2 linked regions of the Homo sapiens genome follow. The protein of the gene in region 2 interacts with the protein of the main gene of each other region in a biochemical or structural test. Each region holds a gene or a part of one and is shown on either strand. Other genes may lie near its edges.

Evidence for each region.
Region 1: the proteins of NUDCD3 (region 2) and PAFAH1B1 form a complex in vitro, tested with the Homo sapiens proteins (one study listed by BioGRID).

The regions. Positions count from the first base shown.
Region 1 is NC_000017.11:2,680,590-2,686,340, reverse strand, and holds the end of PAFAH1B1 (platelet-activating factor acetylhydrolase IB subunit beta), read right to left. Parts: intron 5,386-5,751; exon of another isoform or gene 5,107-5,385; intron 4,613-5,106; coding exon 4,539-4,612; 3' UTR 726-4,538; downstream 1-725. UniProt on the Homo sapiens protein: Regulatory subunit (beta subunit) of the cytosolic type I platelet-activating factor (PAF) acetylhydrolase (PAF-AH (I)), an enzyme that catalyzes the hydrolyze of the acetyl group at the sn-2 position of PAF and its analogs and participates in PAF inactivation.
Region 2 is NC_000007.14:44,487,631-44,494,799, forward strand, and holds the start of NUDCD3 (nudC domain-containing protein 3), read right to left. Parts: upstream 3,029-7,169; 5' UTR 2,971-3,028; coding exon 2,779-2,970; intron 1-2,778.

The sequences.
Region 1 (5,751 bases), on a different chromosome or scaffold from region 2:
ACTGTCCTTTGTAGGGCACCTTGAATACACCACAGATACAGCCATGTGTAAAGTGCAGAGCTGGGGTTTCTGGGACAAAGATGAACACTCTTATTTTGTATGTTTCAACCAAAATCGAAAACAGTATTAAGGATTTACTTTTATGATTCCAAGACCACTGAGCAAGATTAGAGGCTAACAGAACAAAGGGGGTAGGGCCCCATCTTTTTTTTTTCCTTTTTGTGGAGAACGGGGTCTCGCTATATTGCCCAGGGAGGTCCCGAACTCCTGGGCTCAAGCTATCCTCCCGTCTCTGCCTCCCCAAGAGCTGGGATTACAGGCGTGAGCCACCGCGCCCGGCAGGGCCCCTTATCTCTAGACTCTGTCCCCAAGAGTCTAGTCTTGGGCCTGTAACCAGCCATCCTGGCTTTGGCTCTCTGGCCACAGCGATAGCCACAGTCAGAACGGGCTGCTGGGAGGGTTGGGGAGAGCGGGCCTGTGCCGCAGACGCATGCCATGGCAAGGCTCAGGCTGAGGCACTCCCTCCTCCACCCGGGGGAAGGGGGACAGCAAAGCCAGTTCGGGTGCTGCCCTGAAGGAAAGCAGCTCATGAGGCCTTACTGCCCTGACACCGATTCGTGTCACTCTTTGTGACTGGAGCTACACACAGCCCCACTTTCTATCAGCATTTCCCCTGTGCAAAGGAAGACAAAAAAAAAAAAAAAAAAAAAAAAAAAAATCACATCTAGTTTTATAGGCATTTAATAGTTTACCAGTTGGTACAATAAGATTTTTTAATATGCAGAAAACATGAATAAATTTTGTTTTACACAGTCTGAGAGCAACAAATCTTACTGTAAAACACGAGAGCAATATTATATACATTCCTTTACTGATTTTTTAAAATTGTGTCAATATCTTCAGTGAACTCTTAACAATCTGGGGAACTGTTTTCCTCAATTACCACTTCAGCAACGTTCATACGAAATCAAGGCTTGCCTTCATGTCAGTGTCAGGATCAACTTTAACTCGAAGAGTTTGTGTTTGTCTCTAACATCTTCAGAGTGAGCTTTAGGGATGCCTGAAGGATGGACAGTACAAGCAAGCAGCTACTTCCATGATACAGTGGGAAGATAAAAAGGCCCATTCAGTCCAGCCGTGACCTGTAAATCCAGCTTGCCCTCCCCCCACCCCACTGGAAAAAAAATCCAAAACCTTTTTCCACCAGTTTTTTACATGTCGCTTCTCTACCAGGAGATTCTTTGCGTCATCTAGATGAACACACTGGACTTATATACAGCTGGACATGAAAGTAACCAATTTAAGTGCCTTTTCCTTCAACAATTTTAACTTCAGTTGCTTAAGGATGATCGAGCCACCGATGTCAACAAAATATCCTTTACCTTTAAATAGTTTTTCTTTAATTAAGTTTAAAGAAAACCTATTTAACGAGTGATATTACCGGGAAAGTTCACACAGAAACAGAAAGAGGCGAACGGGAGAGCAGGGCACTGGCAGCGGGGAGGCGGGGCTTGGTAAATCTAAAGCCAAAGCTTCCAAAGACTACGGCGAACGCTCCCCAGCCCGGGACGACTTGCTAACACTAGTGATTTTGAGAGTAGTGCTCTGGGCACACCATTGGTCACACCACACACAGACGAACCAGGACGGTCTTAGTCTCCTAAAGTGCAAGATGCCGTGACAACAGGCAACTAGGCTCCACGCGGTGTCTAAACCAGTCTCCATGGCATGCACTCTCAAGAGCGCAGCTAGGATTTCTTGGGCACGTTACAGATATATATTTGGGTGGCACTGGAATGTCTGTTTTCACACACACACACAGTCAATAATCATCTGAGGATGCAATTCTACCAGCTCTTTATTTCTTAAGTGGCCAATTTGATTGAGAAAGTGACAAAGCAGCAGTGAACCTCTAAACCAATTAATAAAAGTCCTCTACTTACAATCCAAACCAGTAACCTCATCATTGTCCTTATCCCAGGCAAGGCACAGGGTTAGACAGCAGACAGAGAAAACAGAGAACACAGTCAGAAAGGGCATCAACAGGACAGTGTCAGACAGCAGTGCAGGAAATTTTGCAAATCTGATTCCAGGTTGTAGACGGACTGCTCTCCCCCACCCCTTCGTTATTAAACAGGGCTCATTACATGTGGACCCAGTTGTGGGCCATCCCTGAGATTCAATGTTCGCTGCTTCTCACATGGAGGATGTCTGGTAACTCAACTCAGCAGCAGGCTGTGGCAATCTCCCAAGTAAGGATAACTTTGTTTACAGAGTAATCGTTTCCTCCTCCTTTGTCAACGCAAGTCGCTGTGTGCTGCAGGGGAAGACACGCTTGCTTCCTCCTGCATCGGTACCATTCTCCTTTATTGTTCAATATCTATGAGTGATTTCTAGATGTTGTGGCTTACCCTTAAACAATTCATGCTAAAAATGAATTAAAATACAAGACATTTATACATGTACAAACAAATGTTAAGATGCACCATTTCTATGTATTTATATTTCTCAAAATAGGACAGAAAATAGCAGCAAACAAGAACAAAGATATTTTCCATAGTTTTTGTAGAAAAATCCAGTCAGAAGAGCTAAGGGAAAAAGACTTTTCAATGTAAGCAGGGTTGTGAGGCAATATTGTCCTGAAAATTCACCTACTGTATGTATTTAAGGAATTAGCTTAAGATGTAATTTTTGTCCTCAAAAATAGCCATTAGTTCTCAAAACTTTCCCTTCCAGAGACATCTCTCAGGAATCTAAAAACAAACAAGCAAACAAACAAAAAGACACAAGCTAGACATAAAGCTGCTTCTAGTTAATATACGGCCTAGTCTCTGTGTGTATCTACAGGACGCTAACTCTCACCCTTTGTCTTTTGCAGGAACCAATTTTCCATTAAATACTAAAGGGGACATTTAAAAAATCACATAGTACACAAATGAATAAAACGCAGTTCAGAATTTTATCTTTGTTAAACTGTCACTGTTATCTCATTGTTCTGTTAACTTTTCAAATAACTCTCTTGGAAACAAAAAAAACCTGTTGGTTAGCTAAGCAATGGAATTCTTTATTAATAACTGACAATGGAATAGTGCTCCAAAAGTCATGGCTAAAAATTCTCTTAAACCTACCTGTAACTTTGGGTCAAAATATACAACATATCCGGGTTGTGTAAAATGTCGAGCGGCTAAATTAGAGGGGGACATAACGGAAGTGATTTTCCTTCGGCTGGAAAAAAATCCCCAGAGTCAGACCTAGTTTTCAGAAGCATTAAGATCAAAAAGGGTTTGTTCTAAAGCATGGCATTCCACAGCAACATTTATTCTACTTGTCCGTTTTAGCACTTTTTCAAAAACCCAGGACTAAGGACATGGAGGTTGATGTGTATGATACACACATACAGACTTATCCACTTACAGATAGGCCCATATACTTACAAACATTTACATATAAACAAAAGGTGAAAACAGTACATTTTTATGCACGCTCCATTAAACCCTGTCATTTTTTTAAAACTTGTAAGTGAAACACAGTTTAAATCAATATCAGATTCATGTTGAAAAACAAACTGCTGTATTCCTCCCACTCCTTTCAAATGGGCACACAGAACCTTCTCAGTATTTCTGTCATTATGTAATGCACATTGCACATCCCTAAAAAACACCAAAAACGAATAGTGATTTGTACCATGACACACTCAATGGGGAGATTAAATTCTACTTGGAAGTCACATCACTACACAGTCTAATAGTATGGAGAATACAACTAGAAGTATGTCCAGTGTGGAAAATAGAAGCTTAGAGTATGACAGTATTTTTTGACCTGTTTACAAAGCATTAAGACCAAAATGAAATAAATGAGTTGCTATTAGCTGCTGAGATTTTTCTTGAGATTTACAGTCATTTTCTTACATAAATATACCACTAGCCTCTGCGTGATAGGCTGCCAAAACAAATATATCCTACTGATTTGGCAAATGTGTCATGACAAAAATTCCAATGTATAATCCCCATTCATTACATAGATGGTTCAGAAGATTCTGAATTGTAGCCTTATCATCTAAAATCCTTACAGAAGATTTATTAAGCACACTTAAGTGATGTTACATAGATACACATTTCAGAAAAAGCCCTAATAACCACCACTTTTCCCCAAATGAGGCCATCAAGTCAGGCACCAACAGATAGCAGAAAGAAAAACAGGAATTAATAATCCAACATAAAATGACACTGTCAACTATTCAGTTTAGTGCCCTAGTTCAATTGATTCAACTTCTGCCTTCTTAGGCCTGGTGTGACCAATGCCAGCCCAGGTTTTTAAACCCTATGGTACTTCTAGACAACGTATGTAAATTTACAGTATACAATTTGGATTCACCATGCATGAATACTTTGTGTGTAACATTTAATAAGCTCAATCTACATCCAGAATAATTTACATGAAAGGACAATATTTATTTAAACAGAGCTCAATGGGGTAACCATGGTATCATCAGAGTGCATCCAGAGGAAAAGAGGGAGGAGGGGCCGAAGGAGACACAATCAACGGCACTCCCACACTTTTACTGTTTGATCTACGCTGCCAGTGACGACATAGGGTGCCGTCTTGTGGAAATCTGAAAGAAAAAGAAATGGTTTATTTAAAACTCACACGTAAGCCTGGACAACAAACATAGTGAGACCCCCTCTCTACAAAATACAAAATTAAAAAAAAAATTAGCCGGGCATGGTAGTGTGTGCCTGTAGTCCCAGCTACTCGGGAGACTGATGCAGAACTGTTTGAGCTGGGAAGTCGAGGCTGCAGCGAGCCATGACTGCACCACTGCACTCCAGCCTGGGTGACAGAGCAAGACCCTGCCCGGTCCCAACCCTCCATCACACTGAGCCAGATACAATTTTTAATGAGCCACAAAATTCTAAGAAAGTCCAAATGCCAGTAGTTTTCGTGTTTCTCTAATATACCATAACCCAAGAAGGTATCTAGTTTGCCAATTCAGTTAGGGAAGTTGAGACTCAATGATCAAATCCTGTATTAACATCTCAATAAAAACGCCTGTTCCTCTTTGGCCCATCCCAAATGGGGCTCAAATCCTTTTTCTTCTTTTTTCAAAGGCAGGGTCTCACTATGTTGCCCAGGCTGGAGTGCAGTGGCTGTTCAAAGGTGCGATCCCACTACTGATCAGCAAGGGAGTTTTGACCTGCTCTGTTTCTGACCTGGGCCAGGTCACCCCTCCTTAGGCAACCTGGGAGTCTCCTGTTCCCAGGAGGTCACCATATTGATGCTGCACTTAGTGCAAACATCCCATCAGCACAGCACACTGTAACCCAGAACTCCTGGGCTCAAGCAATCCTCCAGCCTCAGCCTCCTGAGTAGCTGGGACTAAGGCACAGCAGGGCTCAAATCTAACAATACACAGTCTCGCCATATCCATTTACTGAACACGATGTTCCAGGCATGGCATAAATGCTCCGTATTTGTGCCTAATCCTTGAACCAATCCTGTGAGGCAGGTATTAGCCCACCTTACGCAGGCTTTGGTCCATTATACTTTAGTGCATTTATTATACTTGACTGTATTCACTCTCTTAAATTCCAGATTCAAGTCCAGATGATAGTGAGGATGTTTACTCAAATCAAATACAATTTTCTGAGTTTCTAGTATCTGATAGTATACACCTGCCAGTGGGAAAGGTTGAGGAAGATTTTGTTTGAGAAACAAACTAATAGGGGAGAAAAATTACCCATCAGAGTGGTA
Region 2 (7,169 bases):
CCTGTCAAATGAGCTTTTGTGGATAAAAGAACAGGTTCCAGCCAGGTGCAGTAGCTCATGTCTGTAATCCCAGCACTTTGGGAGGCTGAGGCGGGTGATCACCTGAGGTCAGGAGTTCAAGACCAGCCTGGCCAACACGGTGAAACCCCATTTCTACTACTAAAAATACAAAAATTCTCTAGGCATGGTGGTACATGCCTGTAAACCCAGCTACTCGGGAGGCTGAGGCAGGAGAATCACTTGAACCTGGGAGGAGGAGGTGCAGTGAGCCAAGATTGCGCCACTGCACTCCAGCCTGGACAACAGAATGAGACTCCATCTCAAAAATAAAAAATAAAAAAATAAAAAAAAGAACAGGTTCCCAGGATTCACCCTGATCTACCCAACCAAAATATCCAGGAATATGTGCTTTTAAAAGTTCCTTGGCCAGGCGCAGTGGCTCACACCTGTAATCCTAGCACTTTAGGAGGCCGAGGCAGGCAGAACACAAGGTCAGGAGTTTGAGACCAGTCTCGCCAACATGATGAAACCCCATCTCTACTAAAAATACAAAAATCAGCCGGGCGTGGTGGCGCACACCTGCAGTCCCAGCTACTCGAGAGGCTGAGGCAGGAGAATTGCTTGAACCCAGGAGGCGGAGGTTGCAGTGAGCTGAGATCATGCCACTGCACTCCAGCCTGGGCGACAGAGTGAGACTCCATCTCCAGGAAAAAAAAAAAAAAAAAAAGAAAGAAAAAAGTTCCTTAAGCGATGCTGATGGTTGAGAACCACTTCCAGAAAACATGACACCTCTCTTAAGCATCTGCTGGAGACTGTTGTCCCCTTGGTTTCTGTGAAACTTATTGCTCTCCACCAAGATTATTCCCCAAGGCCTGTTCTTCACCTTTGGCTCTTCTCTCTCCCTCGGACCACTCCAGTTGCTCTAGCTCCCAAAAGATCTAGTCCAGTAATTCCAATAGCCTATGGGCAGGGACTCCTACCTGCAACTTCAAGTTCAACCTGTCTAAAACTGAACTTTTTCCCCTAAACCCAGGTGACAGTTCAGTTAACGCATTATCACTATTCCAGTCACCCAAGTTGAAACCTTGGATCATCTTTGACCCATCCCTCCCCTTCCTCCATCCCTGCTCCCCATCTCCACTACTTCATTAGACTGGTCACCAAATCCTAACCTATGGAAGTGTCTTGTAAGAGGTGTTACCAGGTAAATGAGTTACCAGGTTAATGAGTGCTCTGTCAGTTCATCTGTGAAACAAAGACCAACCTCTCAGGTTATATTAAGGGTTAAATAAGATAACGACCCCAGAATATAAAACATCTGATACTATACATATTACTCAGTATATACTCCTTTCTCCTCCACATCTTTCTGCAAACTACAATCAATCTAGACAAAAGTGTTCTCATCCTACTATGGAATGGTTAAACAACAGAACAGGAAGATTTGGAATCCACAAAATGAAATTTTTAGTTTCAGCTCTACGGTGAACTGGCTGTGTGTTCTTGGTCAAATCACTTAACCTTGCTGAATTGGTACGTAAACTTGAAACTTATCTGTTTCACAGAGACACTGAAGATCAAATGGCAAGACTTCATTAACCTGCCATAAGATCCTGCTAAAGGCCACCTCCAACAGCTCTCTCATCACTAAGATGGCACTTATGCCACTGACAAGGACGAGGAATAGCCTTAAGTTCTGAAATTGAATCCTAATGGAACCCCATTCCTCGTTTGGCCCTATTACCCTGGTAGCTACCAAGACATTCAAAGCTTTGGCTTCTGCTGAGGAAAGTAACATCTTACCAACCTGCAGCATGCATTAAGACTTCAGGAGGAAACATCTGAAGCATTTTATAAACTGTAACATCTAGAGAACTGAGGGAGGTATCATCAGCATTTCTATCTTCTTGGGTTTCTACAAATAGGCTTAATACTTGGCTGAATAGTTTCTTTTAATCTCATCAGAAGTCCCACCTCTCTTATAAAAACTTCACTTCTCAACCATCATTTCTATTTCCTTTCTTTACAATGGGCTCCATCAAATAATTGCCCTTAAAAAGTTTTCTATTACTTTCTGGGTTTTCTCTCTTTAACTGTGTCACAAGGAGAGAGAAACCATTACTTAAACACCCGTATCACCCTCACCTGCGGCAACTAAGAGTGTAAACTACATTCAGCAAAAGGTTGCTTACCACTACATTCAAAAGTGCCCAGTCAACTTCACTGAATGAGTATTGACAGCGTTTCCAACATACAATAAACTTAACCTGGAGGGTACGGAATTAAGCTCAAATAGAAATTTTAATAAGCACTACATTGACAGTCTTTGACCTGGGAAGTCACATTTCAAACAAGCGACCACACCCATTGATCAACACAATGCCTCCGTCATCCCCGCCAGCTCAAGTCTTTGGTAGTTCTGGGGCATGCACGTTTCTGTTGCTGTAAATGTCCTTCCTTCTGTCTGGCCTGCATGGATTTCGCTCCCTGACTAGCGGCCCCCAGCACCGTGAGGGGTACGCGCTGGCGGGTGCTGAGTAGGGCTCTTAACAGTCGGCTTACTACTTCTGAAACCTCAGGACGTCCGGAGCGAACACCTCAGCGGAATAAGCTGACATCCAATCCGCGCTTCAAATTACTGAAGCCATTCTCACAAGCTCAACCCCAGGACACCAGGAAAAGGAGGAAACAGGCTGGGAGAGCTTGGAGGAGCGGGCGCCAGGAGTCAGGGCAGGCCGGGGGCGGCGGCTCCCCAGACCGCAGGCCCGCCCGCCTCACCTGCAGCACCAAGGCCTGCGCGGCCCCGGGCGGGAAGCCCATGCGGTCCGATGGGTGGCGCAGCAAGCGATAGAAGTCTGTCTTGCGGTAGAGGAAGCCAAAGAGAACGCGCAGGAAATCCTGGACGTTGCCCACGTGCTGCAGGATGCCCAAAAGGGCCTGGTCATACAGCTCGGCCGCCCCTGTCTCCATGTCGCCTCCCGCCCTAGGTACGCTTCACACACACAGCGCCGCCTCAGACCTGCCGACTGGCCACTTCCGGCGTCCGCAGCCAACGGCTCCGCCGGACGGCGCGGCTGCGGAACTTCCGGTCCGTGCTCGTTCGGCCCCCGCGGCCCCGGGCTGTTTTCCCCAGACCCAGCTGCCCCACGGGCTTTGCCTTGAGGTGGTCTTAGACAAAAGAGCCCGACAAGGGCAGCAAGGAGGTTCCTACGCGGAAGGAAGCCCGTGGCTTCTGCTGCGCTGCGAGGGCTTGACCGCCATGTTTGAAGCGGGCGGAAAAAAATTATGGGGCGTGCAGTGTCACGTGACTGCTCGGATTTTTGTCACGTTGTCTGTGGATCCTTTCTTATTTCTGTGTTGAATTCCAGCCTGGGTATTTGGAACCTATGGTTAAAGATGGGGCTAGGGTAAGCTTTTTGTTAGTGAGCCAGAGACGGGAAAATGCGTATATGTGGGATGTATGGGTTTCTTATTAACAGATCTGTGAGTTAAACTCAGGGCGTTGCATCAGAAGAAAGTCAAGATGACGAAGAAAATAAAGAGTGCATTCAACGTATATTAAGTGGAAAGAGCTAGATTCAGAATAGAGAATCCGTATGCCATCGTTGTGAAATATGTACGTGTATGTGTGTGTATAGTATGTATATACATATATACGTCATATATACATATGTTGTTAGTGTCTGTCAAAGTATAATCTTAAAAAAGTAAAAAGCATGACACTCATACAAATATATCATGAACACATATCCAAGATTTCTTCAGCAAATTAACAATGATATGGTAAAGCTGGTTCAAAAGCATTTTGAGGAAGTGGAGATTAAACATTTTGACAAAGCATTAGAGTAAGATTAGGTTGGATACAAAGCTGGCTGGTGTTCTACAAGATGATAAAACCATAGATTATCATTTCTAGTGTATAGAAATGATTTGCACCTCTTCTAGATTAAAACATGCAAGTTAACATGTCTTCATAGTGTATAAGCTTTAATGAATTGTAAATAAAATCCAACTCAGGTAAATTGCCCTAGAACAGTGGTTCTGAAACTCTTGATTTAGGGACCATTAATCCTCTTAAAATTTGTTGAACATTCCAAAGAACATTTGTTGATATGGGTTATGCTTATCAATATTTACCACATTAGAAATTAAAACATAAAATGTTTAAATATTTATTTAATCATTTTTAAATGACCATAAAACACATTACATGTTAACATACTTTTATGCAAAAAATAATGTTCTTCAAAGCAATAAAAGTTCAGTGAGAGGAGTAACATAGTTTTACATTTTTGCAAATCTCTTTAATGAGCCTACTAGAAGACAGCAAGATTTGGCCGGCACAGTAGCTCATGCTTGTAATCCCAGCACTTTGGGAGGCCGAGGCGGGAGGATCAGGAGTTCGAGACCAGCCTGGCCAACACAGTGAAACCCTGTCTCTACTAAAAATACGAAAATTAGCTAGGCGTGATGGCAGGTGCCTGTAATCCCAGCTCCTCTGGAGGCTGAGGCAGGAGAATCGCTTGAACCCGGGAGGCAGAGGTTGCAGTGAGCCGAGATCACACCACTGCATTCCAGCCTGGGCGACAGAGCTAGACTCCGTCTCCACAAAAAAAAAGAAGACCACAAGATTCTCACATCTGCATTCACTGCAACATAATTTGCATTATGTTGTTTTCATTGAAGTATATGAAAACATGCAACCTCACACAGACAGTTGCAAATGAGAGGAATATTTTGTCTTTTCAAATAAATGTGGCTATTTGTCTTTAAAATGACATCAAAATTCTTCTACAAGCGATAGTTTCTATTTTTTTTATTTTTAAGAGGCAGGGTCTCCCTCTGTCACCCAGGCTGGAATGTAACGATGTGATCATAACTAACTGTAGCCTTGAACTCTTGAACTCAAGCAATCCTCCTGCCTCAGCCTTCTGAGTAGCTGGAACTACAAGCACATGCCACTGTGCCTGGCTAATTTTTAAATTATTTTTATAGAGACGAGGTTGGGCCTACATTGTTCAGGCTGGTCTGAAACTCATGGGCTCAAGCGATCCTCCCCTCTCAGCCTCCCAAAGTGCTGGAATTATAGGTGTGAGCCACTGCACCCAGCCCTGTAACTGGTAGTTTCTTAAAGGTTACTTGCCATATGGAATCTAAAACTGTATCTATAGACTTTTCATACTCTGTTACATTAATATCGATTGGTCTTTCACTTTGAATGGATCGTTAATAAATGCATGATTTTATACCATCATGTATTAATTAGTCATTTGAAAATGTTGGTCCACTGTGTTATGCAGCTCTTCCAAATGTTCACTCGTTTTATGCAACGAGCATATCTTGCCCCCAGATCTTGGTTTCTAATATCATTTCATTATATAATATCAAAAAATAACATTTGTTAGAATTACCACTAAACTCATCAGAGAAGTCTGTCTTTATTGACAAGCACTCAAGCTCATGGAAGCGGGATATGGGTTTTTTGAATTCTAATTTTAGCTTAAAAACTTGAACTTTATTATTGGAAGTAGATACAATCAATTATTTTCCTTGAAGAGACAGGCTCACTTCATTCTGTCATTCAAGTAAAAATGATGCTCTGTGACTTGTTCAATTGGCAACTCAATCACACAAGTGCTTTGCATCAGTGCAACCATTTTGCTTCAGTATGAGGCAGACATGTCTTATGTGTACTTCTCTTTTAATCATGCACTATTAAAAAGACTTGTTCTCAAGTGGAGAACTTTTAATAAAACAACTTTTAATAAAATTAATAATTAAATGCTATCAGGAGCATTCTTAAGTGAAACTGAACATTTTTAACCTGTAAGTGTAAGGCAGTGCATACTAGTCGAGTTTGGTGCCGTTATGGACTGAATGTGCCTGCCCCCCACCAGATTCATATGTTGAAGCCCCAGTCCTCAATGGGACTATATTTGGAGTCACATTGGTGGTTAGAAGGGCCTTTAAAAGATACTTAAAGGTTAAATGAGGTTATAAGGGTGGGACCTTAACCCAATGGAACTGGTATCCTCATAAGAGGAGAAGGAGACACTAGAGATCTCACTCTGCACACATGCAGAAGAAAGGCCATGTGAGGACACAGTGAGATTGCTTCAAGCTAGGAAGAGAATTCTCACCAGATACCAACACCTTGGTCTTGGATTTCTGGCCTCCAAGACTGTGAGAGAATAAACATGTGTTGTTTAAGCCACCCAGTCTATGGTACTTTGTGACAGCAGGAAGCTAGGACAATGGCCTGCCTTGATTCCTGCTGAGACACTTGCAGTTTTACCTGCCATTGCTTTTGCACCATCATTGCAAATGTCAACATGGTAAAAAAGCAAATAACATCATAGTATTGTTATTTTTACCTTGGAGGCCCCCCAGGGCCACATACTACACTCTGAGAATCACTGCCCTAGAGAATTAATGAATCTCGGGTGAGCCTGTTATATAATTCCTCAGTATAACTGGAAGCACATGCAGTCATCTTCTTGCTATATTCAAAGTTTTGAATAATTTTCTTTAGCACCTAAAGGAAGAAATGGAACAGACGCTGCATCTGGAGAAGGGAAATTGAGGGAAACACTATAAAACAGGAGAAAAACTTACTTTTGTATTTGATACCATATACATGCATTACCTATTCAAAAAGTAAATAAAATATCTTTTTTTTTTTTTTGAAACAGAGTCTCGCTCTGTCGCCCAGGCTGGGGTGTAGTGGCACAGTCTCAGCTCGGCTCACTGCAAGCTCCGCCTCCTGGGTTCACGCCATTCTCCCGCCTCAGCCTCCCGAGTAGCTGGGACTACAGGTGCCCGCCACCACACCCGGCTAATTTTTTGAATTTTTAGTAGAGACGGGGTTTCACCATTCACAGGATGGTCTCGATCTCCTGACCTTGTGATCCACCCGCCTCAGCCTCCCAAAGTGCTGGGATTACAGGCGTGAGCCACCGTGCCCGGCCAAAATATCTTTTAAATTGAATGGAAAGCTAAACATAATGTCATAACACAGTCCAGCAATCATGCTCTTATGTATTTACCCAGCTTATTTGAAAACTATGTCCATACAGAAATCTACATGCAAATGTTTATTGCAGCTTTACTCAAAATTGCCAAAAATGGGAAGCAACCAGGTGCCGTCAACAGGTACTGGATAAACGAAA